3 separate regions of the Homo sapiens genome follow, and all the other regions are linked to region 2. Evidence: fine-mapped expression QTL. A gene starts in region 2. Each other region holds a variant in brackets. All regions are shown on one strand. Distances are from middle to middle.

What was found.
Region 1: its variant is fine-mapped to the expression of TOP6BL in whole blood (TOPMed, PIP above 0.99). The same link has a PIP of 0.9 or more in lung and nasal epithelium.
Region 3: its variant is fine-mapped to the expression of TOP6BL in pancreas (GTEx, PIP above 0.99).

What each region holds. Positions count from the first base shown.
Region 1 is chr11:66,797,362-66,807,908 of GRCh38, forward strand. It overlaps TOP6BL (TOP6B like initiator of meiotic double strand breaks), which reads left to right. Exons shown (of 15, transcript NM_001302084.2): 5 at 3,280-3,335; 6 at 3,670-3,741; 7 at 6,634-6,829. Among named protein-coding and RNA genes, the nearest start is that of RCE1, 41 kb to the right of the region's middle. The variant G/T (reference allele first, on the strand shown) is at 4,677.
Region 2 is chr11:66,739,949-66,750,495 of GRCh38, forward strand. It overlaps TOP6BL (TOP6B like initiator of meiotic double strand breaks), which reads left to right and starts at 4,821. Exons shown (of 15, transcript NM_001302084.2): 1 at 4,821-4,971. It also overlaps a transcript of SPTBN2 not described here. RefSeq lists enhancers at 4,048-4,548, 5,040-5,149, 5,590-5,679 and silencers at 4,510-4,899, 5,310-5,409.
Region 3 is chr11:66,389,509-66,399,588 of GRCh38, forward strand. It overlaps the pseudogene BRD9P1 and the pseudogene RNU1-84P. Among named protein-coding and RNA genes, the nearest start is that of SLC29A2, 23 kb to the left of the region's middle. The variant C/A (reference allele first, on the strand shown) is at 4,039.

The DNA.
Region 1 (10,547 bases), 57 kb after region 2:
TTTGGGTTATTTTCACTTTTTTTTATTGCTTTATTGTATCACTTTAGATACCTCTTCCCTCCTCTGTGCTTTGTTTTTTGTTAAAGCTAGATAATAAACCTTGCTGTTTATCTCCTTTTCTAAAGTGACTATAAGAACAAATAAGGACTTTTTTTTTTCCTGAGACAGGGTTTTGCTCTGTCACCCACGCTGGAGTGCAGTGACTTGATCTCGGCTCACTGCAGCCTCTACCTCCAAGGTTCAAGTCATTCTCCTGCCTCAGCTCCCTGAGTAGCTGGGATTACAGGTGTGCACCACCACACCTCGCTAATTTTTGTATTTTTAGTAGAGATGGGATTTCGCCATGTTGGCCAAGCTGATCTTGAACTCCTAGCCTCAAGTGATCCACCTGTCTCAGACTCTCAAAATGCTGGGATTACAGGCGTGAGCCATCATCATGCCTGGCCAAGAAATTTTGATAGAATATTTTGAATATTAGAGAGCTAAATTTTTTATTATCTGTAGTTAGATATGTTTATAAAGATAAACACTTAAGCATATCTATGACATCCCCCTTCTGCCATCTTCCTACTTTTTGCCTATTGTTTCAGTCACTATTCTAAGTGCTCTTTGTGCACTCGCTCACTTAACTCTTACAACACCCCTTGTGAAGTAAGTTTTATCATCATCATCCGCATTTTGTAGCTGAGAAAACTATGGTACAGAGAGTAAATAACTTGAAGAGTCAGGATTTGAACTCAGGCAGTCTGGTTCTAGAGTCACTTCTTACCTTATGTTACACAGAAAGAAAAATATAGGTGAATGGAGAGAATAATTAGAACAGTGAGGTACACTGGAGAGGATATAAAAGTCAGATGGAGAAGAGGAAGAAAAAGCAAAGAAAAAAGCATGGAATGTTCCACATATGAAAATAATAGAAATAAAAATGGATAGTTCCTTTAAAAAGGAGGTGAAGGGGCTGGGTGTGGTGGCTCACACCTGTAATCCCAGCACTTTGGGAGGCCGACTTGGGCGGATTGCTTGAGCTCAGGAGTTCCAGACCAGCCTGGGCAAGATGGTGAAACTCTGTCTCTACTAAAAATACAAAAATTAGTCGGGTGTGGTTCCATGCACCTGTGGTCCCATCTACTTGAGGGGCTGAGGCAGGAGAATCGCTTGAACCCAGGAGGTTGAGGCTGCAGTGAACCGTGTTTACACCATTGCACTCCAGCTTAGGTGACAAAGTGACTCTGTCTCAAAAAAAAAAAAAAAAAAAAAAAAGTTAAGGGATAGGGGTTGAGAGAATGGCAAAGAGGCAGGGATGATTTCTGATAATTTGTGACAACCTGGAGCTGTGATATAGGGCTCAATATATTTAAGATTTAGAATTTAAACACAGGCAAGCATTAAGTATGTTTAGGGAAAATACAAGTGATAAAGAATGTATTTTTTGGCCGGGCGTGGTGGCTCACGCTTGTATCCTAGCACTTTGGGAGGCCGAGGTGGGTGGATCACAAGGTCAGGAGATTGAGACCATCCTGGCCAACATAGTGAAACCTTGTCTCTACTAAAAATACAAATATTGGCTGGGCACAGTGGCTCACGCCTGTAATCCCGGCACTTTGGGAGGCCGAGGTGGGCAGATCACCTGAGGTCAGGAGTTCGAGACCAGCCTGGCCAACATGGCGAAACCCCGTCTCTACTAAAAATACAAAAATTAGCCGGGCATGGTGGCGCACGCCTGTAATCCCAGCTACTCAGGAGGCTGAGGCAGGAGAATCACCTGAACCTGGGAAGTGGAGGTTGCAGTGAGCCGAGATTGTGTCATTGCACTCCAGCATGGGTGACAGAGCAAGACTCTGTCTCCAAAAAAAAAAAAAAAAAAAAATACAAATATTAGCTGGGCATGGTGGCGCGTGCCTGTAGTCCCAGCTACTCAGGAGGCTGAGGCAGGAGAACTGATTGAACCTGGGAGGTGGAGGTTGCGGTGAGCTGAGATTTTGCCACTGCACTCCAGGCTGGGAGACAGAGTGAGACTCCATTTCAAAAAAAAAAAAAAGAATGTCTTTTTCCTGGCTGAGCACGGTGGCTCATGCCTGTAATCCCAGCAGAAGTAAAACTTTGGGAAGCCGAGGTGGGTGGATCACTCACTTGGGTGGTCAGGAGTTCAAGACCAGCCTGGCCAACATGGCGAAACCCCATCTCTACTAAAAATACAAATATTAGCTGGGCACAGTGGCGCGTGCCTGTAGTCCCAGCTACTCGGGAGGCTGAGGCAGGAGAATTGCTTGAACCCAGGAGGCGGAGGTTGCAGTGAGCCGAGATTGCGCCATTGCACTCTGCACTCCAGCCTGGGCGACAGACTGAAACTCCGTCTCAAAAAAAAAAAAAGTCTTGTTTCTCTAGGTTCATCCGTGTCACAAATGACAGGATTTCCTTCTTTTTAAAGGCTGACTAGGCTGGGTATGATGGCTCATTCCTATAATCCTAGCACTTTGGGAGGCTGAGGCAGGAGGATCACTTGACCTTGGGAGTTCAAGACCAGCCTGGGCAATATGGTGAAACCCTGTCTCTACAAAAAAATGCAAAAAGTAGCTGGGTGTAGTGGCACATGCCTGTGGTCCCAACTACTCAGGAGGCTGGGGTGGGAGGATCACTTGAGCCTGGGAGACCAAGATCACACCACTGCACTCCAGGCTGGGCAACAGAGCAAGACCCTGTCTCAAAAAAAAAAAAAAACCACAAAAAACTAACTGTATTCCATTGTGTATATACCACATTTTCTTAATCAACAGAAAGACAAATACTGTATGATTTCACTTATATGTGGAATCTGAAAAAGTCAAACTCATAGTAGAGAATAGAATGGTGGTTACCAGAGGCTGGGAGTGGGTTAAGGAAGGAAATAGGGAGTTGTTAGTTAAAGTGTACAAAGTTTCAGTTAGACAGGAGGAATAAGTCTTTAGAATCTTATTTCACAGGGGGGTGACTATAGTCAATAATAATGTATTATATATTTCAAAATAGCTGAGAGTAAATTTCAAATGTCTTACCACAAAAAATGCTAGTAAGTTATGTGATAGATGTTAATCTACTTGATTTAATCATTCCACATTATATACATATATCAAAACACCACATTGTACCCTATGAATGTATACAGTTATAGTTTATCAATTAAAAGTAATGTTAATTTAAAATTTTTTAAGCTTATTCTTTTCCTTTAGGGATTAGATATGGAAGTTTTTAATCTGTATCTTGGCTCATGTTAAATCTCACACTTAACTTATTGTTTTGCAGGTCAGATTTCATTTCAGTGTAAAGGTAAATGGAATCCTCTCCACAGAGATCTTTGGGTAAGTTCTTAGGTCTATGGCTTAAGATGATGCTATGGCTCTGCAATTTTTCTCAGCTATTATTGTCCTATTTCCAAAAGGTTCACAGTTTGATATCTTGACCCAAAGTCACCTTGAAACTAATTTTCTGACACCCCCACATTTTATTATTTTAGTAGATTCATCCCTGTCTCTAGAGGGGGTAAACTTAAAGATTGCCATTTTCCCCTTGGTTAATTAGTTACTGAATTCTAGTAATCGCTGGGGTGGTAGTAGTCATGGGCCAAAATTTATGTCAAACAGAGATTGATTTTAGAATCTTTGAGAGATGGCTTAGCTTTGCTTTGCTTTGCAGGGTGGAGAATGAACCCACTTTGAACCTTGGGAATGGAATTGCTCTTTTGGTCGACTCCCAGCATTATGTGAGGTGAAGGCGTAAAGCCTTGTTGTCCCTCTGCATGTTTTACTCTCCTCTCGAGTACGAATGTGGGTAGAAATTGGAAATTGTCTCACTTGTCATTTGTAAGTGCCAGGTGTCAGCTTCTCTATAAGAAAAGCAGAAGTAAAACTTTTTTTTATGTTGAAAACTGCTATTTTAAGTTATTTATGTATTTGAATCTATTCTAAATGACCTGAAGACATGTGCCTTCTTCTCTTCAGGCCTTATTTTACACAGACCCTGCTAGTTCCAATCCCATTTAGGCATGAGAAGAGAAGACTATGAATTTAAAACTTTACTTGAATTCTTGGCTAGAGAGATAGTATGAATACAAAGGAATTCAGTGTACATTATTTTCTGTGCATCAGCATTTTGCATAGGTTTGGAAATCATCTCTCTGCCCATCTCCATCTTCTTCAGACTCCAAGAAAGTAAATCTGGCCAGGCGCAGTGGCTCATGCCTATAATCCCAGCACTTTGGGAGGCTGAAGTTGATGGATCACTTGAGGTTAAGAGTTTGAGACCAGCCTGGCCAACATGGCAAAACCCTGTCTCTGCTAAAAATACAAAAATTAGCTGGGCATGGTAGCACATGCCTGTAATCCCAGCTACTTGGGAGGCCAAAGCATGAGAATCACTTGAACCCAGGAGGTGGAGGTTGCAGTGAGCCGAGATCACGCCACTGCACTCCAGCGACAGAGCAAGACTCTGTCTCAAAAAAAATAAATAAATAAAAAATGTAAAAAATCCATGGAGGAGGTGGTAAACAATATGGAACACACAGAGCCCTTCTGTCTTGCCTTCCTGTGCCATTTAACTACCACAGAATCCAAAGTGAAAATGAATTATGTCAAGAAAAGACCTAACATATGCTTAAGTCCAATTAATTTATTTTTTCTTTTTTTGAGACAGGGTCTCAGTCT[G/T]TTCAACCCAGATGCCATCATAGCTCACTGCAGCCTTGGTCTCCTGGGCTCAAGTCATTTTCCCACCTCAGCCTCTCGAGTAGCTAGTAGCTAGGACCACAGAAATATGCTACCATACGCTGCTAATTTTTTTTTTTTTTGAGACGGAGTCTCGCTCTTTCGCCCAGGCTGGAGTGCAGATCTCACCTCACTGCAACCTCCACCTCCCTGGTTCAAGCGATTCTCCTGCCTCAATCTCCTGAGTAGCTGGGACTATAGGTGCATGCCACCACGCCCAGCTAATTTTTTTGTATTTTTAGTAGAAATGGGGTTTCACCATGTTGGCCAGGATGGTCTCAATCTCCTGACCTCGTGATCCTCCTGCCTCGGTCTCCCAAAGTGCTGAGATTACAGGCATGAGCCACTGCGCCCAGCCCATATACTGCTAATTTAAAAAAAATTTTTTTTTGTAGAGATGAGGTTGTTGCCTAGGCTGGTGTCAAACTCCTGGACTCAAGCAATCCTCCTGCCTCGGCCTTTCAAAGAGCTGGGATTACAGATGTGAGCCAATGTGTCCAGCCCTAATTTAGTCTTTATTCATTAGTTTCTGCCTCTATTTATGTGCCCAGAGGCAACACTAGTAGTCAAAGTCTCTTAAGGCTTAAAGAGACTGCCTGTGGTTCTTAGTCTGTTTTCTTATTCTCACCCAAAATTACACCTCAGATGAGAATATTTTTGTCATTTAATATGCAGGTAATAATTTCCCCACCCCATATCTTTCTTTAGTGATCCTCTAATAATAAACAATCCTTACAGGTAGCAGCTCATCATCATAGTTGTACTGACACAAGTTTAAGCCTTTGAGCCAATTTTTGTAGATGTGTTTCCTTGGATGACCTGATTAGAGACAAAGGGAAAGGTTCATTAATATTTCCTCTCTATTAATTAATTCATTCATTCTTAATCAGCTTTCTCAGGTTGACTGTTTTCTCTCTGTTTAGAAAAGAGCTATTGGAAAGTAACAAAATTTTACTAGATTCTTTCTAGGAGAGAAAGATGGCCTGGTTTTTTCTCATTGTTACTATCAAACAGCAACCTCAGACCTCTTCAGCGGAAGGTGTAGCATGCGTGAGAGCAGACTTATAAGTATCATGGGGCCAGTTTTAGGCCATTTGTGATTCATGGGCCCCCTCACACAATGCTGACCTTTGAATGAATTTGGAAATTTGCTCAGAACCAAAGATTAATTTTAGTGGAGGAAGTATACTTGAGAATAAGAAACAGGCTGGTCATGATATCTCACACCTGTAGTCCCAGCACTTTGGGAGGCCAAGGCAGAAAGATTGCTTGAGGCCAGGAGTTTGAGACCAGCCTAATAAACATAGTGAGACCCCATCTCTAATAAAATAAAATAATAGTAATTATTTTTCGAGACAAAGTCTCGCTCTGTTGCTCAGGCTGGAGTGCAGTGGCGCAATATCAGCTCACTGCAACCTCCGCTTCCCAGGTTCAAGCGATTCTCCTGCCTCAGCCTCCTGAATAGCTGGGATTACAGGTGTGCACCATCATGCACAGCTATTGTATCTTTAGTAGAGATGGAGTTTCACCATGTTGGCCAGGTTGGTCTTGAACTCCTGACCTCAAGTGATCCACCCACCTCAGCCTCCCAAAGTGCTGGGATTACAGGCATGAGCCACAATGCCTGGTCTAAAATGTTTTTTTAAAAAGAGAAACTAAGAAGCATCCGTTAGTGGCAGCAAAAGCAGGAGCAATGATATCTCTGAAATGCCAGTTTTTCTACTACTTCCATTGCTGTGATTCCCTGAGTGAGACATAAGTTATTTATTCCAACAAAACTGATATGGCAGGTTGTGTGGTTGTACATATGCTAGAGGTTACAAAAATAATTTTGAATGCTCTTTTAAATAATTTCTTAAGAGGAAAAAATGTTAAATTTGACTTGTCTGTTTTCTGACAGTAGACCAAATTTTGGTACAATTGAATCACACTGCAGCAGAATTCACCCTGTGCTAGGACATCCAGTAATGCTTTTCATCCCTGAAGACGTGGCTGGCATGGACTTGTTGGGAGAACTGATACTGACTCCAGCAGCTGCACTGTGCCCCAGCCCAAAGGTTTCTTCCAACCAGCTTAACAGGATTTCTTCAGTTTCCATATCCTTTTGATGAAAAGTTCCATCCAATTATCTTTGAAATGGGTTTTTATATCCCAGTTTTAGGAAAGCCTTTAGTATGTGAATTCTGCATCTACAAATATATATGATTTGTATAAAAACATATAATCTAATGTGAAAGCCAAGCTTGAAAATTTTGCCAGGGAACTGAAAACTGTAAAATGTGACACATGCCATGCGTTTTTCATACAATCCAATATGACTGAAGCATGAAATGAATGGTGCACGAGGAAGAGATGGGACTAGAAAAGTAGTCTGGAGTTGAATATGGTAGATCTTGAGTGCCATACTAAGGATTGTGAATTTTATTCTCTGTATAGTAAGAAACCATTGAATGTTTTGGGAGAAGTCTTTAGCAGCATTATAGAGTACGGATGGGAGACAGAAGTTAGTAATACTAAGTAAATAAGTAAGTGAACTGGATTAAAAATAATGAGTGCTTGACGGCTGGGTGCAGTGGCTTACACCTGTAATCCCAGCACTTTGGCAGGCCGAGGTGGGCGGATCACTTGAGGTCAGGGGTTTGAGACCAGCCTGGCCAATATGGTGAAACCCTGTCTACTAAAAATACAAAAATTAGGCCGGGCGTGGTGGCTCACACCTGTAATCCCAGCACTTTGGGAGGCTGAGGCGGATGGATCACAAGGTCAGGACTTGGAGACCAGCCTGGCCAACATGGTGAAACCCCATCTTAGTAAATACAAAAATTAGCTGGGCATGGTGGCAGGCGCCTGTAATCCCAGCTACTCAGGAGGCTGAGGCAGGATAATCACTTGAACCTGGGAGGCAAAGGTTGCAGTGAGCCGAGATCGCAGCCACTGCACTCCAGCGTGGGCAACAGAGTGAGATTCCGTCTCAAAAAAATAAATTAATTAAAGCCAGGCGTGGTGGTGTACGCCTATAGTCCCATCTACTTGGGAGGCTGAGGCAGGAGAATCACTTGAACCTGGGAGGTGGAGGCTGCAGTGAGCCAAGAACACGACACTGCACTCTAGCCTCGGTGACAGAGCAAGACTCTGCCTCAGAAAAAATAAAAATAAAATAACAATAATAATGAGTGCTTGAATCTAAAGTGTGGTAGGCACGGAAAGGCCAGACTTATCACCTGAATTAATCAACAAAATGTGGTAACCAGTTCATTATTAAGGTAGGGAGAGATTAGGGGCAGGGAATGTCTAAGGTTGATGTCAGATTTCTATTCTATGTCTGTCTAGAATAGGCAAATACAGAGAGAAAGTTGATGGAGGGGCTTTTTTGTTTTTTTTTTTGGAGACAAGGTCTGGCTCTGTTGCACAGGCCAGAGTGCGGTGACACAATCTCAGCTCACTGCAACCTCTGCTTCCCGGACTCAAACCATCCTCCCACCTCAGCCTCCTAGAGACCACAGGTGCATGCCACCATGCCCAGTTAATTTTTGCATTTTTGGTAGAGACAGAGTTTCACCATGTTGCCCAGGCTGGTCTCAAACTCCTGGACTCAAGCGATCCACCAGGCTCGGCCTCCCAAAGTTTTGGGATTACAGGCATAAGCCACTGTGCTCGGCCTGGAGGGGCTTCTTTTCAGAGTAATGAAAGTGTTCTAAAATTGATGGTGGTAGTGACTGCACAACTCTTTGAATATTCTAAAATCCATTTTATTACACATTTAAAATGAGTGAATTGTATGGTATGTGAATTGTATCTCAATAAAGCTATTTAAAAATATTTCCATGAATAACTGACAGAATAATGATACTTTCAGCAAGATAAAAAAACATTAATAGCAGATTTAGGAGATAAAGAAGATGAGTTTGACATTAAACATGTTGAGTTTATGGTGTCTCAAGACATCCTTTGAACATAGTAAGGAGCTATATAGGAATTTGGTCTGGAACTTGGAAATGGTCAGATTTAGAGATACAGAATTTTAGAGTCTCAGTTTCCTCCATAGGTAAGAGTCGTGTAGTGCTGTGTTTAGAGCATGGCACAGGAGTGTAAATGTTGGATTCACTACTAATTAGCTGTGTGACTGTAGGCAACTCACTTAACCAGCCTAAGCCTTTACTTCCTCTGCTTTAAAATGAGGATGATACTTATCTCATAGGTTTAGTTTCCCTTGCAAAAATTGGTTTTCTGTTCTTTTGGGGTTTGTTTGCTCGTTTTAGAATTAAGTATAATAATCCATGTGAAGCTCCTAGCATATAATGAGTACTCAATAATATTAATAATTGTTATTGTCATATGATTGAAGCTATAGGAGTAAATGAAGTTATAGAAAATTATAAACAATGAGAACAGGCCGGACACGGTGGCTCATGCCTGTAATCCCAGCACTTTGGGAGGCCGAAGCTGGCGGAGCACTTGAGGTCAGGAGTTTGAGACCAGCATGGCCAACATGGCAAAACCCTGTCTCTATTAAAAATACAAAAATTAGCTGGACATGGTGGCACATGACTGTAGTCCCAGCTACTCGGGAGACTGAGACAGGAGAATTACTTGAACCCAGGAGGCAGAGGTTGCAGTGAGCACTGCATTCCAGCCTGGGCGACAGAGCAAGACTCTGTCTCAAAATAAAAAAAAAGAGAGAACAGAAGAGGCGTGGTATGATAGATGTCAGCTATCTGATGTTGCATATCAGATATCAAAAGATACCATAGTATCTTTTAGGGAGGTGGAGGGAGCAGGATAGTGATGAAGACTATGCTTGGACATTTTCTATTTTAAAACATGCTTTTTCTTTATATCTAGATAGTACAGAACAGTATAGAATAAATAAGTTTCTTCTTCTTCCTCATTCCATCATCTAGAAGGGATAAGACAGACAAATTTTTTGTCCTCTTGGGGAAAATTTAACAGATAGATATTAGGTAGTGATAAGTGCAGTGGAGATAAATAGAACAAAGTAGTAGAGAATGATGGAGATGTTATTTTAAATATGGGCAGTGAAGCCTCTAAGGAGGTGATGTTTTAAAAAAGAGAGAGAGCTAGCTATGAAAATTCTGTTGAGATTTTACTTTCTGAAAGTGGCAAACTTGATAATTTAGACCAACCTTCTCAATGAAGGCAAAGGCTAGATGAAATATTAAAACATCATAAAAGCAGGCCGGGTGTGGTGGCTCACGCCTGTAATCCCAGCACTTTGGGAGGCCAAGGTGGATGGATCACCTGAGGTCAGGAGTTCGAGACCAGCCTGACCAACATGGAGAAACCCTGTCTCTATTAAAAATACAAAATTAACCAGGCATGGTTGTGCATGCCTGTAATCCCAGCTACTCAGGAGGCTGAGGCAGGAGAATCTCTTGAACCTGGGAGGCGGTGGTTGCGGTGAGCCGAGATCGCGCCATTGCACTCCAGCCTGGGCAACAAGAGTGAGACTCCATCTCAAAAAACAAACAAACAAACAAAAAAATCATAAAAGCATCAAAGAGCTAGTGAAGAGGAAGAGTTTCTGTGCCATGATTTAGGAGAGGTTTGAATTACAGAGAGCTGAGCCTAGCATTGGGGGATGCTTTTGCCCTGGAGCAGTTTGCCAATTAGAGCAAGCAGTTGAGAGGCTAAGATGTATTAATACTTCCAAATCAGTGCAGGACAAGAAGGCCAAAGAATCCAGGACCTGCTGAGCTTGGGAGTGCTGCTAAAAACACCTCTTGCCTTGGGCAAGGGATAACTAGAAGGCTATATTTTAAGGAGTAAGGTGAACCTGAAATAAATTACTCTTCA
Region 2 (10,547 bases):
TTGAACCCAGGAGATGGAGGTTGCAGTGAGCCGAGATCCTGCCACTGCACTCCAGCCCAGGCAACAAGAACAAAACTCCTTCAAAAAAAAGCCAGTTACACAGGGCAGAACCACTTTGTGATGTAGATTTTATTGGCTATCTAGGCAGAGGAAAAATTGGACAATAATAGGAAAGGAATGAAATCTCCTGGGCTGGCCCAGCACCTGCTACTGGTGGATGAGAAATCAGACTTTGTGCAAAGGGTGACTTGGCCAGGAAGAACAGGAAGTTAGTCAGTATCATAGTCAGTTATTCAAGGAGAGGAAGAAAACAGGGAATGGGGGTGAAGAACGAAATACTCGAGTTATATAAACTTTGGTACTGTCCCAGGAAAAGAATCTCTCTTTTCCCCTAAGTCTTAGAAAGGGGAAGAACAGATGCTGTAGTCCAAGAATTGCACAAAAGTCAGCACCATTATGGCCTCTAGTTGCCCCCATTAGCCCAATAATATTCCTCTGCTAGAACATCCCTGTCTGACCCCTGATAAGAAAGCAGAGGGAGGTGAGTGGTGAAGCTGCCCCAGATTCTGTGCTCCAGGTGGAGAAGGCCTCAAGAAGGTGAAGGGATGAGCTAATCTGAGCCTCATGGCCCCATTTCCAAGGATGTGATTAGTGGAGAGTCACCTGGGACCTGCTCCATTTCAGGAAACCCGGTTATGGGAACTGGTATGGGACAGACTTTGCTCAGGACCCGAGAGAAGCAGTTAACCCTTTCCTACTGTCTGGATGGGAAACAGCTTAATAGTTGCTTGGTTCTTTCCCAGGGGAGGGAGTCTTCAAATGGACTTCCTTTTGCATCAGCTTGGAAAGGCGGACCTCAAGGATATTTTCTACTTAAGTTCCTAGGGTCAGCCTCTTTAGGGCATTTGAAAGCTCTAGGGGAGCCTAAGAAACAAGGTGGGGCCTTAAGAAGTGTCTAGGAGACACAGAGAGGGCACATTCAAAAGGAAAGCTCAACAGTCCCTAAAATGTCATTGTTCATCTGGCAGCACTCCCTAGGATGTTCTGGTTCCACTCAAACCCTTGAGTTTGGGTCAGAATCAGTCTTGGGCTCTTCTTATAGGGGGGCAGGGAGTGTGTCTCAGACAGAGGGTTTCTTTTTGGAATAAACAAGATATCCAAAGTAGACATGTGATATGGTTTGGCTGTGTGACCATCCAAATCTCATCTTGAAGTGTAGTTCCCATAATCCCCATGTGTCATGGGAGGGACCAGGCGGAGATAATTCAATCATGGGGGCAGTTTCCCTCATCCTGTTCTTCTGATAGTGAATTAGTTCTCAAGAGATCTGATGGTTTTATAAGGGGCTTCCCCCTTCACTGGGCACTCATTCTTCCCCTTCCTGCTGCCATGTGAAGAAGTATCTGTTTACTTCCCCTTCTGCCATGATTCTAAGTTTCCTGAGGCCTCCCTAGCCATGATGAACAATGAGTCAATTAAAACTCTTTCCTTTATAAATTACCCAGTGTCGGGTATGTCTTCATGAGAATGAACTAATACAACATGAAACAGTAATATAAATTCTGAGGTGGGTGCAGAAATGGAAGCAGAATCAATATGTCACCCAGTCTAAGGACTGGAAATAACTGGCTCCCTACAGACACTGCCAATAAATGAGACCTGGAAGGCCAGGGCTGAAAATATCGAGAGCCATACTCAAAGCCTCCTTGGTTGGCCTAGTTAACTAAGGTGACCTTAACCAAGGGCAGGTCATTTAGTTTCTTTGGGCTTCAAATTTCTTCATCTTAATAGATAACTGATAATTTCCAAAGTCCCTTCTGGCTCTAACATTCTAGTGTTCTGAGGATGAGGTCTGAGCAAAAAACCGTTTTTAAAATTTTAATTTTTTTTTTGAGACAGGGTCTTGCTCTGTCACTAAGCTGGAGTGCAGTGGCATAATCATAGCTCACCGCAACCTCCAACTCGAGGGGCTCGAGATCCTCCCACCTCAACCTCCCAAGTAGTTAGGACTGTAGGCATGCATCACTGTACCTGGCTAATTTTTAAATTTTTTTGTAGAGACAGGCTGTCACTATAATGCCCAGGTTGGTCTCAAACTCCTGGCCTGAAACAATCCTCCTGCCTTGGCCTCCCAAAGTGCTGGAATTACAAGCATGAGCCACCATGCCTGATTTATTCATACAACTTCTTCTTGGATTCTCATTTTTATCATTTCTAAAACAAAGATAACATCTTTCTTACAAGATTACAAAATTGGGAGAACTGCTTAAGATGAATAAGAAAAAGTGAAGAGCACTTAGCACAGAGTGGATTCTCACCATATATCAAGCCTATATTGCATGCTGCCTGAATACGTGGGTTTACGCTACGGAAGTCCTGATGGCAAACCCTCATATCGAAGGCTTCCCTCCTTGCTTCTCCCTATGTCCAGTAGGGAGGACAGCTGTGTCCCTGGCTACCTTTGAGAGGCCTCCACTGCCTCTAGGGTGGTATTGGGTGCTCCATTACACCTTTATCCCTGAAGTTCATTCCAAGGACAAGGGCTGAAAGCTAGAGGCTCATTTCCAAGGACAAGGGCTGGAAGCTAGGAAACCAACTCATCTTCATTCTCAATGCCATTCTCAAGGTGGAGCATTTTCTGCTGGGCCAACACTCACAATGATAATTTTTTTTTTTTTTTAGACAGAGTCTCACTCTGTCAGCCGGGCTAGAGTGCAGTGGTGTGATGTCAGCTCACTGCAACCTCCACCTCCCGGGTTCAAGCAATTCTCCTGCCTCAGCCTCCCAGGTAGCTGGGACTACAGGCACATGCCAACACGCCTGGCTAATTTTTGTATTTTTAGTAGAGGTGGGGTTTCACCATGTTGGCTGGGCTGGTCTCGAACTCCTGACCTCAAATGATCCACCCACCTGGGCCTCCCAAAGTGTTGGGATTACAGGCGTGAGCCACTGCGCCCGGCCACGATGGGAAATATTTTAAAGAACCATCCTCAATACCTTGGTTTCTCACCCATAAAATAGTGACGATAACAATTTTCTTACAAGATAGTTGAGAGGATGACATCATTTATGTAAAGAGCTAGTGGGGTCCGACAACAAGCAGTCATTCAATGTTACTGGTCCCTTCCCCTTGGCAACTCCTCTTCTGAAAAAGGACAAGAGACTGGGGGTGGGGATGGGGAGCTCTGCGGGGGGTGTGGGGGGAATGAAAGGAAGACTCCAATGATTCCTCAAATGCCAGCTGTTTATCAAGTTTGATGGTTACGATGGATTTTCCAGAAATAAAAGCTACCTTGCTCCAATAGGTCTACCTGTGAGCAACTGAGATGGGGAGGAATGGGGAGGAGCGCTGAGCATAGACTCGAGAAGGGTATGATTCAGGTCTCGATAGACAATGTTCTTTGGAGTAGCACCAAGGTTGTGTACTGGGCAGGCACTCTGCCAGCTCGCCAGCCTGTTCTGTCCAATCCTGGCGTCTTGGAGCTGGGGTGGAAGAATTTTTCCTGAAGGAAAGCAGCCAACACCCTGTCCCACCCTTCTCCTTGGGCAACTCTTTGCCAGGCAGGAATCTCTCATCAGGGTTTTCTTTTGGCTGTCAGATCACCAGCAGTTATAGGCTTAAGCCCCTGTCACCATGCCCCTCCCGGAACCTGGCAGAGAGCAGCAGCTGGGACTCTGCAGGACCTCCTTATTCCAGCCAGGAATGCACTTGGAAAACCCCAGAGCTTCTCCTGTCAGCCAGAGCCCAGAAAAGCCAGCTCCTGGTCTTGGCACATTCAGTGCAGTCAAACGTGGAAAGGGGCCTGGATAGGGAGGGGTCGACTCCCAGGTCCCACCTTTGCGGGGGAAGCTGGTCCCCCTGGATTAGGCTGGGAGATGCTTGGGGCTGGTTGTAAGGTAAAAGACGGGGGGTCGTTTTTTCTTTTTTTGAGACAGAGTTTCGCTCTTTTTGCCCAGGTTGGAGTGCAATGACGCGATCTCGGCTCACTGCAACCTCCGCCTCCCAGGTTCAAGCAATTATCCTGCCTCAGCCTCCCGAGTAGCTGGGATTACAGGCGCCCGCCACCACGCCCGGCTAATTTTTGTATTTTCAGTAGAGACGGGGTTTCACCATGTTGGCCAGGCTGGTCTCGAACTCCTGACCTCAGGTGATCCACTCGCTTCGGCCTCCAAAAGTGCTGGGATGACGGGCGTGAGCCACTGCGCCCGGCCCAGGGCGTCGTTTTTAATTTCAGATTAGTAATTTTTTAGTATATGTCCCAAAAATTGCCGAGATATGTGTATGGTTATAAAAAAAATTCGCTGTCTATATGAAATTCAATTTTAATTGGCCGTCTTTTTCTTTGCTAAGTCTGGGACCCAGGGCTTGGCCTGGGGCAGCCCCCGCCGCAGACAAGGCTGTTGGAGGGGTCACGAACCCGCTTGGTAGCCCCGCGCCGTTACCGTCGCCCCTCCCGGCCGAGGGAAGGGTCCTGGAAAGCGCGAAGGGCGGCCAAAGCCCGGATTAGGGCCAAGGGCCGCATCTCGCCGCCACCGTGGGAAACTATCTTTGAGAGGAGGGAGGAGTCGTGGCCTGGCCTCATTCCCGCTCACCTCCAGCCTTGGCCGCCTCTCGCGGGCTCTTCCCCGCCCCGAACCTCCCACCTGCGGGCCCACTGGCACCCGCGGCGCTCAGAGGCTCTAGGTGGCTCCCGGCGGCGGTTCGCGGTCTCGGGGCCCTGCAGCGTCGAGTGCGCAGGCGCGGCGGGCAGGTGGGCGGGGCGTGCGCGGGCGCAGGCGCGCGCGCGGGAAGGGATGGGCTCGCGCTGCCGGGCGTGGGCGTGGACTCGGGCGTGGGCACTGGCGGAGTTCCAAGCCCGGGCTGAGGAGGGGGCGGCGGCGGCGGCGGCGGCGGCGGGCGGGTACCCTTCGACTGGGCGTTGCCGCTGTTCCCTGCGCGGCATGGAGGGGACGGCCGTGGCCGTGTTCGAGGTGATGCTGGGAAGGGAGAGAAAGCGGAGGACACTTTCTGAGGAGACGGGCTTTGTGAGGAGACCGCGAAGTTTGGGCAGAGGGGTCGGGCGTCGCCTAAGGTGAAGGAGGAAGGTTCGGGAATCGAGGCCCGTCTCCCACGGGGAAGCGAGGAAGTAGGAGCAGATGAGGGCTCTCGCTCGCGGGGTACTCTGTGGGGGAACGACGCCCTCTCTCCAGCCTACGGCTCAGAAAGCTGCGGCGTTTGCCGAGCACCGGCGGACACCCAGGGGCAGAGCCTGACGCAGCCTCGGAGGTGCCTGCCGGAGCCCAGCGCCTTCCATGCACCGGGTGCTGGGAGGGGGCGCGGAAAGAAGGAAAGGAATGGGGCAAGCCCTGGCGTTGCGGGGCGGGGTGGGGGGAGTCGGGGCGCCAGGACAGAGGCAAGGAGGGACCCAGTGCAGACTGGGAGCGAGGGAGAGTTTTTTTAGGCCCCGGTGCAGGTGCAGGTTTCTGGGTTCGAAGCAGCTGGACGTGGAAGGGCGAGGTTCAGAGGCCACACCTGTGCTCGGGGAGCTGCTCTGGAAGACGGCACTGAGCGCCTGGCGCCGGCCACGCCCCGTGTGCTCATTTCATTACCCACTTTCACGGCCGGTGCCCAATGGGACGTTGAGCTGCTGTTTGTGAGGGGTACTGGGCAGGTGACAGAAGCACAGGCTCTGAGGGCACCTGAGAGAGTACCCCCGGGCGTCCTGCCTGTTTGTTGTCATCAAAGAAGGCGGCGGGATTCCATTTTACAAATAACCGAACCTAGGCTAGAACCCAGGGCGCTGACTCATAGGCCAGTGTTCTTTTCCCAACTGCGCTGTCATACCGACATGAGAATATCTTTAGGGTTTGTTTGTTTGTTTGTTTGTTTGTTTGTTTTTTGAGACGGAGTCTCGCTCTTTCGCCCAGGCTGGAGTGCAGTGGCGTGATCCCGGCTCACCGCAGTCTCCGCCTCTCGGGTTCAAGGGATTCTCCTGTCTCAGCCTCCCGAGTAGCTGGGATTACAGGCGCACGCCGCTACACCTGGCTCATTTTTGTATTTGTAGTAGAGACAGGTTTTCACCATGTTGGCCAGGCTGGTCTTGAACTTCTGACCTCAAGTGATCTGCCCGCCTCCGCCTCCCAAAGTGCTGGGACCGGCGTGAGCCACCGTGCCCGGCCCGATATGGGAATATCGTAACAGAGGACGTGTGAAGGAATAGTTAGACTCTACACGTACCTGGAAACCATTCTTGTTAACTGGTACAAATGAGGATCTTAGTTCCCAGATCTCCCTGCCTTTAAAAAGGGGGTAATAATTTTCCTTGTGTTGCCTCCCTGTAAAAGTGAGAATCTGTTTGCATGAATAATAATGGGAGTTGGCCGGGCGCGGTGGGTAGCCTGTATTCTCAGCACTTTGGGAGACCGAGGCGGGCAGATCACTTGAGATCAGGAGTTCAAGACCAGCCTGGCTAACATGAGGAAACTCCGTCTCTGAAAAAAATACAAAAATTAGCGGTGGCTCACGCCTGTAATCCCAGCACTTTGGGAGGCCGAGGCAGGCGGATCACCTGAGGTCGGGAGTTCAAGACCAGCCTGATCAAAATGGAGAAACTCCGTCACTACTAAAAATACAAAATTAGCCAGGTGTGGTGGCACATGCCTGTAATCCTAGCTACTTGTGGGGCTGAGGCAGGAGAATCGCTTGAACCCAGGGGGCGGAGGTTGCAGTGAGCTGAGGTCGCACCATTGCACTCCAGCCTGGGCTACAAGAGCAAAACTCCATCTCAAAAAAAAAAAATTAGCAGGGTGTGGTGGCAGGCGGCTGCACTTCCAGCTACCTGGGAGGCTGAGGTGGGAGGATCACCTGAGCCCGGGAGGTTGAGGCTGCAGTGAACCATGATGATGCCATCACTGCACTCCAGCCTGGGAGTCAGAGTGAGACTCTGTCCCCTCTCTCCCCCCAAAAATAAATGAAATATATTTTATTTTCAATTTGTCTCGAATAAATGTGTTTTTTTTTTTCTTTTTGAAACGGAGTGTTGCTGTTGCCCAGGCTGGAGCGCAGTGACCCAATCTTGGCTCACTGTGGCCTCCACCTCCCGAGTTCAAGCAATTCTCCTGCCTCAGCCTCCTAAGTAGCTGGGGCTACAGGCACACACCACCACACCCGGCTAATTTTTGTATTTTTAGTAGAGATGGGGTTTCACCATATTGGCCAGGCTGATCTTGAACTCCTGACCTCAGGTGATCCACCGCCTCAACCTCCCGAAGTGCTGGGATTACAGGTGTGAGCTACCACACCCGGTCGATTAAATGTTTTACCCAGACATCTTGGAGTCCTGTTCAACTTAAAATATTGTGTGTAGTCTTTACTGCATTAGAACTTAGAAATAATAGCTAATATCTGTTAAGCATTTGCTATTTGCCAAGTACTGTGTTAAGCATTTTGCACATATTTTTATTTAATTTTTTTTTTTTTTTAGTAGAGATGGGGCCTCACTATGTTTCCAGGGCTCAAGCGATTCTCCCACCTTGGCCTCCCAAAGTGCTGGGATTACAGGCATGAGCCACTGCGCTCAGCGTTGCACGTACCTTATTTGTTTACTTTCAGCAGCAGCCCTATGTGGTAGTTTTATCCCCATTTTAATAGATGAGGAGTCTGTGGTTTGGAGAGATTAAGTAATTTGCCCAAGGTCACATGCTAGAATTTGGCACATCAGGGATTCAAATCCAGGTGTGGAGTGCAGTGGCCTGATCAGGGCTCACTTCAGCCTCAATCTTATGGGCTCAAGAGATCATCCTGCCTCAGCCTCCCCAGTGGCTGAGACTACAGGCACACGCCACCACGCTGGGCTAATTTTTGTTGTTGTTAGTAGAGATAAGGTCTGCGTATGTTGTCCAGGCTGATCTCAAACTGTTGAGCTCAAGTGATCCTCTCACCTCGGCCTCCCAAAGTGCTGGGATTGCAGGCATAAGCTACCGCGCAGGGCAGCATTAGCACTCTTAAATAGTATTCTGACCCTCAAAAGTGTTGATTTAATGAAAGATCAAGATGATTCATAACCAGATGCCACTCTTATTCATAGTCTTCATGTTGGCTTTTATTTGGGGCAGGAAAAAAGAAACAAGAAAAACAAACTCCCACTTAATTTTTCCCTAATTATTATTTCCAGATGAATTTATCTTCTGAATAAAGGAATTTATTGTCTCAATTTCCTGTCTTACTGGGCATTATGTTGAATTTCACTGACTCTTTTCTTATGTCACTCTCCTAGCTATTTATTTTGTTTAGACACAATACTCTGAACAAACCTAAATCTGACATTTTAGAAGCAAGAATACAATTTTTGGGGGGAAATTAGAGTTACTAATTTAACTGGGTCATAGAGATGTATTATTACTGTGATTTCTAAAGAAGATTATGTTTTCTTTGAATTGTGCTCTTTTCAGATTTTGAGATTTTTAATAATTCACTGGAAGTGTGACATAGATGTATCAAAGGGAGCATTGCTAGAAGGGCAGCTAGTGATTTCCATAGAAGGATTAAATTCTAAGCACCAGGCAAATGCTCTTCATTGTGTAACAACTAGTAAGTAGAGAAAGAAAAAATATTTTCTATCTCTTTTGTCATGGTTTATGTCGTAGCTTATTTAAAAATTTCAATTAGAATCTTTTATCATGTTATTCCAGGATTGTTCCATAATTATAAAATGAAATGATTATGTAATAAGTGTCTGGTGGTAGATTTACAAATGTATCATACAGGAAAGGTGAGTAGTTGAATGACTCTTACCATAGATTATTTATTTTACTGGTTTAAGTTAAAATTGCTCAGAAACAATCTTATTTTTCTCTTGATTTTAATCTACTTTGTCACAGCTAAATTATATTACATTGAGCTTTACCTACTTTTTTTTTCCCAAGTCTAAATTTTGGCAGTAGCAAAAAAAAAAAAAAAAAAGGAAAAATGATGAATGGTGCATACTGTGATTAGTTTGAAAATATCTCTTCCATTTGGCTTTCATGCTTTTATCATTTTTGCCTGTTGTCTTTGAGGGAAACCTGATGCAGTGAGTGGCTCTGAAGCATGAATTTTCTTAAACTTGAAGTGTTAGCTTTTTGTGTGTGTGTGTGTGGTGTGTGTGTGTGTAGGTTTATTGAAGGGTACTTTGGATTGAAGTTGCCCCTTCAGGCTTAGAGAAGTCACTTGGGCACCAAGTTGAGATTGGATAGTGAACTAGGCTTTACAAGACATTTGCTTACCTGAACAGGAATGACCTGTCTTGTCTTTGTGTATTAATATTAAACATCTTCAAGAGCAGTATGACAGGTTGGTTTGCTCTTACTCTGCATGAACTGCACTCTGACTGGCAGGGTTCCCACCACTCTTGAGAGAAATGCTTGGCTACGTGTCTAGGGTGATGGTTGGTCTGTGTGTGGTTGTAATAGTCTAATCCAATAAACTCTGGCCAGGGTAGCAAGGTTGATTTAATTCAAAGCAAAGGACTTTAGCCACAGTAGTTTTTGGCAAGAAACTCGATTCTGCATTTTGAGCCTGATGAACTTCTTTAGCCCACCTAGAATAGGGGGCATTTCTCTTCTCTTTATTGTCTCTGAGCTTTAAGTAATTATGGTTATAATTATTTATTTATTTATTTAGAGATGGAGTCTCACTCTGTCGCCCAGGCTGGAGTGGCGCAATCTGGGCTCACTGCAACCTCTGCCTCCTGGGTTCAAGCAATTCTGCCTCAGCCTCCTGAGTAGCTGAGATTACAGGCAGCTGCCACCATGCCTGGCTAATTTTGTGTGTGTGTGTATTTTTAATAGAGATGGAGGTTTCACCATATTGGCCAGGCTGGTCTCAAACTCCTGACCTCAAGTGATAGTGATCCACCTGCCTCTGCCTCCCAAAGGGCTGGGATTACAAACGTGAGCTACCGCACCCAGCCTATGTTTATATATTTTTTTTGGGTAGGAAACGTGGTGATACATGCTTGATAAAAAACATTACAGAAACATATATTGTGGAGAGTGAGACTTTCTACACATCTCACGCCTTTGAGATGATTATTAACATTGAGTATATATTCTAGATTTTCCTTTTTCCCCCTACTTGCCAAGGATAATCTGTCTTCTAGATTTTTCTATGCCTACGTTCTTAGTTATCAATATCCATTTTTTAGAACTAGAACTATACTATACATATGACTGTGCTATGTACCAGTACTTTGTGGGCAGCATTTCATGTTAGCATAAGGGATCTATTTCATTTTTTTTGTAAAAAAATGTACACTTATTTAGTTTTAGTTTTTGTCAGTTACACACACATATGGTTTTGGCTGGGTGTAGTGGCTCATGCCTGTAACACCAGCACTTTGGGAGTCTGAGGTGGGCAGATCACATGAGGTCAGGGGTTCGAGATCAGCTGTCCAAAATGGAGAAACCCTGTCTCTACTAAAAATATAAAAATTAGCGGGTTGTGGTGGCACACACCTGTAATCCCAGCTACTCGGGAGGCTGAGGCATGAGAATCACTTGAACCTGGGAGGACAGAGGTTGCAGTGAGC
Region 3 (10,080 bases), 350 kb before region 2:
CTACTAAAAAGACAAAAATTAGCCGGGCGAGGTCGCGCATGTCTTTAGTTCCAGCTACTTGGGAGGCTGAGGCAGGAGGACCACTTGAACCCGGGAATCAATGCAAAATGATTTATTATGTGATGACTTAAAATCTGTTGAAATGAAACTGATCTGTTTCATCTCCAAAGAGCAGACTGCAGAAATTTGAGAGGGACATCAGAGTTATGGTGAGAAACAGGTGGATGAGTGGCAGGACTCAATTACAAGTGGGATCATGCCAAGATAATTTTCCAGCTGAAGCAGAGGAGAAACATTCCATTGACCTACAGATGAAGCCAAGGTTGGTGATTCCCTTGGAGATGCTAGCAGCTCTGTTCTGGACTTTATGTCAAAGAAATCATATTGTATGTTTCTTTTGCTATTTCCATGCTTAGTTCATTGGGGAAAGTACAAAAGAAATTGCACCATGGCGAAAGCCATTTGAAGTTAGATGAGAAACAACAGCTAAACTCTTGGAATATCTTTAGGAAACGCAGACGTGATGAGGAGGTCTTTCAACCTCAGTTTTCTAACACATCCGAAAGCCTTTGCACCACCTGGGAAGCCTCCTCTCAGGGAACAATAAGACATAGTCGTAACTCATAGGAATTTCTTCTGTCTCCAGAGCCTGAATCCTCTGAATTATTTTTTAAACTTAAACTTGCACGTACAAAGTTTTTGTGGTGACAAAAAGAATTTTCTTTCTTTCTTTTCTTTCTTCTCTTTTTCTTTCTCTCCCTCTCTCTCTCTTTTTTTTTTTTTTGAGACAGAGTCTTGCTCCGTCGCCTAAGCTGGAGTACAGTGGCACAATCTCAGCTCACTGCAACCTCTGTCCCCCGGGTTCAGGTGATTCTCCTGCCTCAGTAGCTGGTATTATAGGTGTGCACCATCATGCCCGCCTAATTTTTGTATTTTTAGTAGAGATAGGGGTTTCATCATGTTGGTCAGGCTGGTCTCGAACTTCTGACCTCGTAATCCACCCGCCTCGGCCTCCCAAAGTGCTAGGATTACAGGCGTGAGCCACCGCGCCCGGCCTCTTTCCTTTCTCTCCCTTCCTTCCTTCCTTCCTTCCTTCCTTCCTTCCTTCCTTCCTTCCTTCCCTCCCTCCTTCCTTCCTTCCTTCCCTCCTTCCTCTCTTTCTTTCTTTTCTTTCTTTCTTTCTCTCTCTTCCTTTCTCTCTTTCTCTCTCTTTCTTCTTTTTTTTTTTTGAGACAGAGTCTCACTCTGTCGCCCAGGCTGGAGTGCAATGGCGCAATCTCAGCTCACTGCAACCTCCGCCTCCCAGATTCAAGCGATTTTCCTGTCTCACCCTCCCAAGGAGCTGGGATTACAGGCGCCCACCACCACACTTGGCTAATTTTTATAGTTTTAGTAGAGACGGGGTTTCACCATGTTGGTCTTGAACTCCTGACCTCAGGTGATCCACCCGCCTTGGCCTCCTAAAGTTCTGGGATTACAGGCGTAAGCCACCACGTCCGGCCAACACAAAGACTTTCATGTTATTTCTGGAATAAGAAAAACAGCTACGGAAAAAATATATCAACAGCATACTGTATACAGCATTTTTTTTTAAATGGAGATTAATGAATCGTGAAAATAATATGTAAGGCTGGACACAATGGCTCATGCCTGTAATCCCATCACTTTGGGAGGCCGAGGAGGGAGGATCATTTGAGCCCAGGAGTTTGAAACTAGCCTGGACAACATAGTGAGATCCTGTCTCTGCAAAAACTTTAAAAATTACCTGGGCATGGTGGCATGCACCTGTAGTGCTAGCTACTCAGGAGGATGAGAAAGGAGGATTGCTTGAGCCCAGGAGTCTGGGGTTGCACAGAGCTATGATCCTGCCACTGCATTCTGCCCAGGTGACAGAGTAAGACCCTGTCTCTAAATTTAAAAAAAGAAAAAAATAAAGACAAGAAAATAACACGTAAATGGTGAGCTAAACCAGATTTCTTGAATCAACAGTGCTTGTCAGTGATTTTCGCTTCCCCATTCTATGTGCTTTTGTTCTTTTTTGTACAAAGAGATTGTTCTCTGATGTCATTTATGTAATTAAAAATAAATGAATTAAAAACCAAATCGAGAACATTTTCTATTTTTAAAATCAGAAGAAATAACATTTTTACATTTCTAATTAAAACTGTAAGTACGCCGGGTGCAGTGGCTCACGCCTGTAATCCCAGCACTTTGAGAGGACAAGGTGGGTGGATCACTTGAGGTCAAGAGTTCAAGACCAGCCTGGCCAACATGGTGAAATCCCACCTTTACTAAAAACACAAAAATTAGCCAGGCGTGGTGTTGGGCGCCTGTAATCCCAGCTACTCAGGAGGCTGAGGCAGGAGAATTGCTTGAACCCACGAGGCGGAGGCTGCAGTGAGCCGAGATCACGCCACTATACTCTGGGCGACAGAGGGAGACTCCATTTAAAAACAAACAAACAAAGAAACAAAACAAACAAAAAACCTCTAAGCGCATATTTCTAATACAAACCCTAATCTAGACTACAAGTGAACTGTAATCAAAACAGTGGAGTATGAGACAGCAAATCTACTTGTAAGCACTATATGAATGATACTTTTACTTTCTTGAGACAGAGTCTCACTCTGTCGCCCAGGCTGGAGTGCAGTGGCTCAATCTCGGCTCACTGCAAGCTCCACATCCCGGGTTCACGCCATTCTCCTGCCTCAGCCTCCTGAGTAGCTGGGACTACAGGAGCCTGCCACCACGCCTGGCTAATTTTTTGTATTTTTAGTAGAGACGGGGTTTCACCATGTTAGCCAGGATGGTCTCGATCTCCTGACCTCGTGATCCTCCTGCCTCGGCCTCCCAAAGTGCTGGGATTACAGGCGTGAGCCACCGTGCCGGGCCTACAAATGATACTTCTAAGAGAAAACATAGGAGAAAATATTTTTGATCTAGTTAAGGGACCATTTTCTTAGTTATGACACCAAAAAGCATGATCCATAAAAGAAAACATTATAAATTGGAATTCACCAAAATTAAAAACTTTAACTCTTGGCCGGGCACGGTGGCTCACGCCTGTAATCCCAGCACTTTGGGAGGTCGAGGCGGGCAGATCACGAGGTCAGGAGATCGAGACCATCCTGGCTAACATGGTGAAACCCTGTCTCTACTAAAAATACAAAAAAATTAGCCGCACTTGGTGGCATGAGCCCGTATTCCCAGCTACTCAGGAGGCTGAGGCAGGAGAATCGCTTGAACCCGGGAGGCTGAGGTTACAGCGAGCCGAGATCGCGCCACCGCACTTCAGCTTGGGCGACAGAGCGAGACTCCGTCTCAAACAAAAACAAAAACAAAAACTTTAGCTCTTTAAAAAACACTGTTATGAATATAAAAAGACAAGCCACAGACTGGGAGAAAATATTTGCAAAACATATATCTGACAAAGGACTTGGACCTAGAATATATTAAAATAACTCATATAACTAAGTAATAATAATTCAGACAACCTCATTTTTAAATGGAGATGATTGGCTGGGTGCGGTGGCTCATACCTGTAATCCCAGCATTTTGGGAGGCTGAGGCTGGTGGAACACTTGAGGTCAGGAGCTCGAGACCAGCCTGGCCAGCAGGGTGAAACCCCGTCTCTGCTAAAAATACAAAAAATTAGCAGGGTGTGGTGGTGCGTGCCTGTAGTCCCAGCTATTTGGGAGGCTGAGGCAGGAGAATCACTTGAACCTGGGAGGCGGAGGTTTCAGTGAGCTAAGATCACACCACTGCACTCCAGCCTGTTGACAGAGTGAGACTCTGTCTCAAAAAACAAAATAAAACAACAACAAAAAAACGAGATGATGTGAACGGACACCATACCAAGGAAGGTATATAGATGATAAGTTAGCAAATAAAATATGCTCAATGTCATTGGTCATTAGAGAAATGCAAATTTAAACCACAATGACTTACCTGGCAGGGGAGATGCCATGATCACATAGGTGGTTTTCCCAGGGTGAGGTGCATCCATTGCACTCCAGGTGTGCTAACCCTTGCAATTTC[C/A]CTCAACGTGGGAAACTCAACTGCGTTGTTTGTGGCAGTGGGGGACTGCATTTGCGCTTTCTCCTGTGTCAACTTTCTTTTTTTTCTTTTCTTTACTTTTCTATTTTTTTTTTGAGATGGAGACTTGTCCTGTCGCCCAGGGTGGAATGCAGTGATGCGATCTCGGCTCACTGCAACCTCCACCTCCCAGGTTCAAGCGATTCTCCTGCCTCAGTCTCCTGAGTAGCTGGGATTACAGGTGCGCACCACCACACCTGGCTAATTTTTTGTATCTTTAGTAGAGACAGGGTTTCACCACATTGGCCAGGCTGATCTCGAACTCCTGACCTCGTGATCCACCTGCCTCAGCCTCCCAAAGTGCCAGGATTACAGGCGGGAGCCACCATGCCTGGCTTACTGTGTCAAATTTCTTTTTTTAAATAATGCAATGAACTACCACTTACTCGCCTATTAGAATGACTGAAATTAAAAAGACTGACTATACTGAGTGTTGGCTATGAAGGAGAAACTAGAGCTCTTATACTCTGTTGATGAGAATGTAAAGTGGTACATTTTGGAAAAACAATTTGGCAGTTTCTGAAAAAATTAAGCACATACTACCACATGACTCAGCGTTTCACTTCTAGGTATAGTTCCAAAGAAATTAAAGCATAGGTCCAAACAAGGACTTGTACAAAAATATTCATAGTAGTTTTATTTGTGATGGCACAAAACTGGAAACAACCCAATGTCCATAAATAGGTTAAGGGATAAACAAATCACAGGAATACTTTTCACAATTTAAAAGCAATGATGCCGGGCACAGTGGCTCATGCCTGTAATGCTAGCACTTTGGGAGGCCCAGGCGGGCAGATCATTTGAGCCCAGGAGTTGGAGACCAGCCTGGGCAATATGGCAAAACCCCATCTCTACTAAAAATACAAAAATTAGCTGGGCATGGTGGTGGGTGCCGGTAATCTCAGCTACTCAGGAGGCTGAGGCATAAGAATCGCTTCAGCCCAGGAGGCAGAGGTTGCAGTGAGCTGAGATTGTGCCGCTGCACTCCACCCTGGGTGATAGAGTGAAACTGTCTAAAACATAAATAAATAAAAGTAATGAACTATTGATACATACACAGCATGGGTGGATCACGAAATACTAATGCTGAAAGAAGCAGATTCCCCCCTCAAAAAAAATAGTATGCATTGTATAATCCAATTCATATAAAATACTAGAAAATGCAAAATAATCTATAGTGACAAAAGGCAGGTGAGTGGTTGCTTAGAGATAGGGCTGGGCAGGGGGTAGACGAAGGATTACAAACAGTCAAGAGGAGGCTGGGCATGGTGGTTCATGCCTGTGATTCCAGCAGTTTGGGAGGTAGAGGCAGGAGGCTTGCTTGAGGCCAGGAGTTTGAAACCACCCTAAGCAACATAGTGAGACCCCTCTCTACGAAAAGTAAAACAATTAGCTGGGTGTGGTGGTGCACGCCTGTGGTCTCAGCTATTTGGGAGGCTGTGGTTGGAGGATCACTTGAGCTTGAGAGTCTGAGGCTCAGTGAGCTTTAATCGCACCACTCCACTCCAGCCCGATAAAGGGAGCAAGACCCTGTCTCAAAAAAAAAAAAAAAAAAGTCAAGAGGAAACTTTTGAAGGTAATGGATATGTTCATTATCTTCATTGTGGTTACAGTTTCATGGGTATACACATACGTCAAAACTTATCAAATTGTACTATTTATTTATTTATTTATTTATTTATTTATTTATTTATTGAGACAGAGTCTGACTCTGTTGCCCAGGCTGGAGTACAGTGGCACGATCTCGGCTCACTGCAACCTCCGCCTCCCAGGTTCAAGTGATTCTCCTGCCTCAGCCTCCTGAGTAGATGGGTTCACAGGTGCACACCACCACGCTCGGCTAATTTTTGTATTTTTTTTTTTTTTTTAGTAGAGATGGGGGTTTCGCCATGTTGGCCAGGCTGGTCTTGAACTCCTGACCTCAGGTGATCTGCCCGCCTCGGCCTCCCAAAGTGCTAGGATTACAGGCGTGAGCCACCGCGCCTGGCCAAATTGTATACTTTAAATATGTGTAGCTTATTATTCACATGAATTAATACTATCAATAGGTAGGGACTGGGCATGAAGAAAACTGGTATCCCCTGGTAAGGTCATTATATACTTCAATTGGCATATAATTTGAAGGTGCATGATACTTGGAGTTATCTGATTCCTTTTAAAGTTGTCATTTGAATTCTTGAGGTTTCCAGACTTTCCCATCAATGCCCTAGATTTCACAGAAAAGACTTGGAAATAGTATGAATTTAACTTATTTGTTAATTATACCTTTGATTTGCAGCTGCAGCAGCCCTGTGGTTAGAGGGGTAAGAAATTCTCATACGGCAGGCATGCGAAGTACTTGGTGCTCTGTGTCTTGAGCCAAGCATTTAATGACCTGAGCTTTTCTTTCTTTTTTTTTGAGATGGAGTCTCACTCTGTTGCCAGGCTGGAGTGCAGTGGCGTGATCTTGGCTCACTGCAACCTCTGCCTCCCGGTTTCAAGCGATTCTCTTGCCTCAGCCTCCCGAGTAGCTGGGACTACAGGTGCGCCACCACACTCAGCTAATTTTTGTATTTTTAGTAGAGACGGGGTTTCGCCATGTTGGCCAGGCTGGTCTTGATCTCTTGATCTCTTGATCTTGTGATCTGCCCCCCTAGGCCTTCCAAAGTGCTGAGATTACAGGTGTGAGCCACCGTGCCTGGCCAGAGCTTTTCATTTTCTTTAAACTCTCCAGGGTAGTTAAAAGCATCAGCTGCTCCTCAAAATATATTTATTAATTGCAAAGAGAAACGTAGTTATTTTGCAGTGGAGGAACTCAGAGCAAACACTGCCTTAACCAAGCACTCAAGGTTAAAATCACCAGTTTAAAGACCAGGCATGGTGGTGGATGCCTGTGGTCCCTGCTATTTAGGAGGCTGAGGTGGGAGGATTGCCTGAGCCTGGGAGGTCGAGGCTGCAATGAGCCTAGATTGTGCCACTGTACTCCAGCCTGGGCAACAGAGTAAGACCCTATCTCAAAAAAAAAAAAAAAGTTTGTTAAGTCACTAAGTTTGTGGTAATTTGTTACAGCCAACCTTATGGTTTACAGTGTGGCCCAGACTGAGAAAAGATTCTCCAGCCAAACCAGGCTGCAGTCTAAGCAATCCTCTTCTTGTCTCTTATTACTCTGTGGAGCCAATGACACCAGATGGAGAAACTGTATGGAGCTCAGGGAAAGGCTGTATGGGAGAATTGGAGCACGTGCCCTGTGTTTTGTTGGTTTTATTTGGTTTTGGTGGGGTTTTATTGTTTTCTTTTTTTTTCTTTCTTCTTCTTTTTTTTTTGAGAGAGTCTCACTCTGTTGCCCAGGCTGGAGTGCAGTGGCATGATCTCAGCTCACTGCAACCTCCGCCTCCTGGGTTCAAGAGATTCTCCTGCCTCAAGCTCCCGAGTAGCTGAGATTACAGGTGCCTGCCACCACACCCAGCTAATTTTTGTATTTTAGTAGAGACAAGGTTTCACCATGTTGGTCAGACTGGTTTCGAACTCCTGACCTCAAATGATCTTCATGCCTCGGCCTCCCAAAGTGCTGGAATTACAGGTGTGAGCAACTGTGCCTGGCCTGTTTTTTTGTTTTTTGTTTTGTTTTTGTTTTTGAGACAAGATTTCACTCTGTCACCCAGGCTGGAGTGCAGTGGCACATCATAGTTCACTGTAGCCTCAACCTCCTGGGCTCCAGCAATCCTCCAGCCCAAACCTCCTGAGTGGCTGGGACTCCATGTACACGCTGCCACACCTGGTTAATTTTTAAATTTTTTGTGGAGATGAGTTCTCACTATGTTGCTCAGGCTGGTCTTGAACGCCTGGGCTCAAGCGATCCTCCCACCTTGTCCTTCCAAAGTGCTAGGATTCTAGGTGTGAATCACTGTGACTGGACTCCCTGTCTTTTTTTTTTTTTTTTTTTTTTTAGTTAAACTTTTTTTTTTTTGAGACAGAGTCTCACTCTGTTGCCCAGACTGGAGTTCAGTGGCACAATCTCAGCTTGCTGCAACCTCCGCCTCCTGGGTTCAAGCAATTCTCCTGCCTCAGCCTCCCAAGTAGCTGGGATTACAGGCGCCCACCACCACACCCGGCTAATTTTTGTATTTTAGTTCAGACGGGGTTTCGCCATGTTGATCAGGCTGGTTTTGAACTCCTGACCTCAAGTGATCCACCTGCCTCGGCCTCACAAACTGCTGGGATTACAGGCGTGAGCCACCACGCCTGGCCGTTAAACTTTTTATTTTGGGATAATTGTGGATGTACATGCAGTTCAAAGAAATAATACAGAGCGATCCTTTACCCAGTTTTCCCCATTGATAATATCTTGCAAAACTATAGTACAATATTGGCCGGGCACGGTGGCTCACACCTGTAATCCCAGAGCTTCGAGAGGCCGAGGCCGGGCGCTGTGGCTCATGCCTGTAATCCAGAGTTTGAGAGGCCGAGGCCGGGCGCAGTGGCTCACGCCTGTAATCCCAGCACTTTGAGAGGCCGAAGCCGGCCGCGGTGGCTCACGCCTGTAATCCCAGAGCTTTAAGAGGCCGAGGCGGGTGGATCATGAGGTCGGGAGATCGAGACCAGCCTGGCCAACATGGTGAAACCCCGTCTCCATTAAAAATACAAAATTTAGCCGGGCATGGTGGCGCGCGCCTGTAGTCCCAGTAGCTACTCTGGAGGCTGAGGCAGGAGAATTGCTTGAACCCAGGAGGCGGAGGCTGCAGTGAGACAAGATCGTGCCACTGCACTCCGAGCCTGGGCGACAGAGCGAGACGCTGTCTCAAAAACAAAACAAAACAAAAAACTATAGTAAAATATCACTACCAGGATATTGACATTGACACAGTCAAGATACAGAACACTGCTATCACTTCAAGATCCCCCATGCTGCCCATTATGGTCATACTCACTTTCTTTCCCCATTCCCCTCTCCTTCCCCACATCCTCAACCCCTGGCAATCACTAATCAGTTTTCCATTTCTATAACTTTGTCATTTCAAGAATATTATATAAAAGGAATCATAGGCTAGGTGTGGTGGCTCATGCCTGTAATCCCAGCACTTTGGGAGGCCGAGGTGGGTGGATTACCTCAGGTCAGGAGTTCAAGACCAGCCTGGCCAACATGGAGAAACCCCATCTGTACTAAAAATACAAAAATTAGCCTGGCATGGTGGCGTGTACCTGTAGTCCCAGCTATTAAGGAGGTCAAGGCAGGAGAATCACTTGAATCTGGGAGGTGAAGGTTGCAGTGAGCCAAGAGCCAAGATCGAGCCACTACACTCCAGCCTCAGCAACAGAGCAAGACTCTGTCTCAAGAAAAAAAGAAAAAAAAAAAGGAATCATACAGTATTCAACATTTTGGGATCGGCCTTTTTCACTTAGCAGCATCCACTGCAGGTTCATTTAGGTTGTTCTGTGTGTCAGAAATTCATTCCGTTTTTTTCTTTTTTTTGAGACGGAGTCTCGCTCTGTCGCCCAGGCTGGAGTGCAGTGGTGCCATCTCGGCTCACTGCAATCTCTGTTTTCCAGGTTCAAGTATTCTCCTGCCTCAGCCTCCTGAGTAGCTGGGATTACAGGCACGCACCACCACGCCCAGCTAAGTTTTGTATTTTTATTTATTTATTTTTATTTTATTTTATTTTTTGAGTAGGAGTTTCACTCTTGTTGCCCAGGCTGGAGCGCAGTGGCACGATCTCGGCTCACCACAACATCCACCTCCCAGGTTCAAGCGATTCTCCTGCCTCAGCCTTCTGAGTAGCTGGGATTACAGGCGTGCACTACCATGCCCTGCTAATTTTGTATTTTTAGTAGAGACAGGGTTTCTCCATGTTGGTCAGGCTGGTCTTGAACTCCTGACCTCAGGTGATCCACCTGCTTCGGCCTCCCAAAGTGTTGGGATTACATGCGTGAGCCGCCGCGCCCGGCCTAAGTTTTGTATTTTTAGTAGAAACGAGGTTTCACCATGTTAGCCAGGCAGGTCTCGAACTC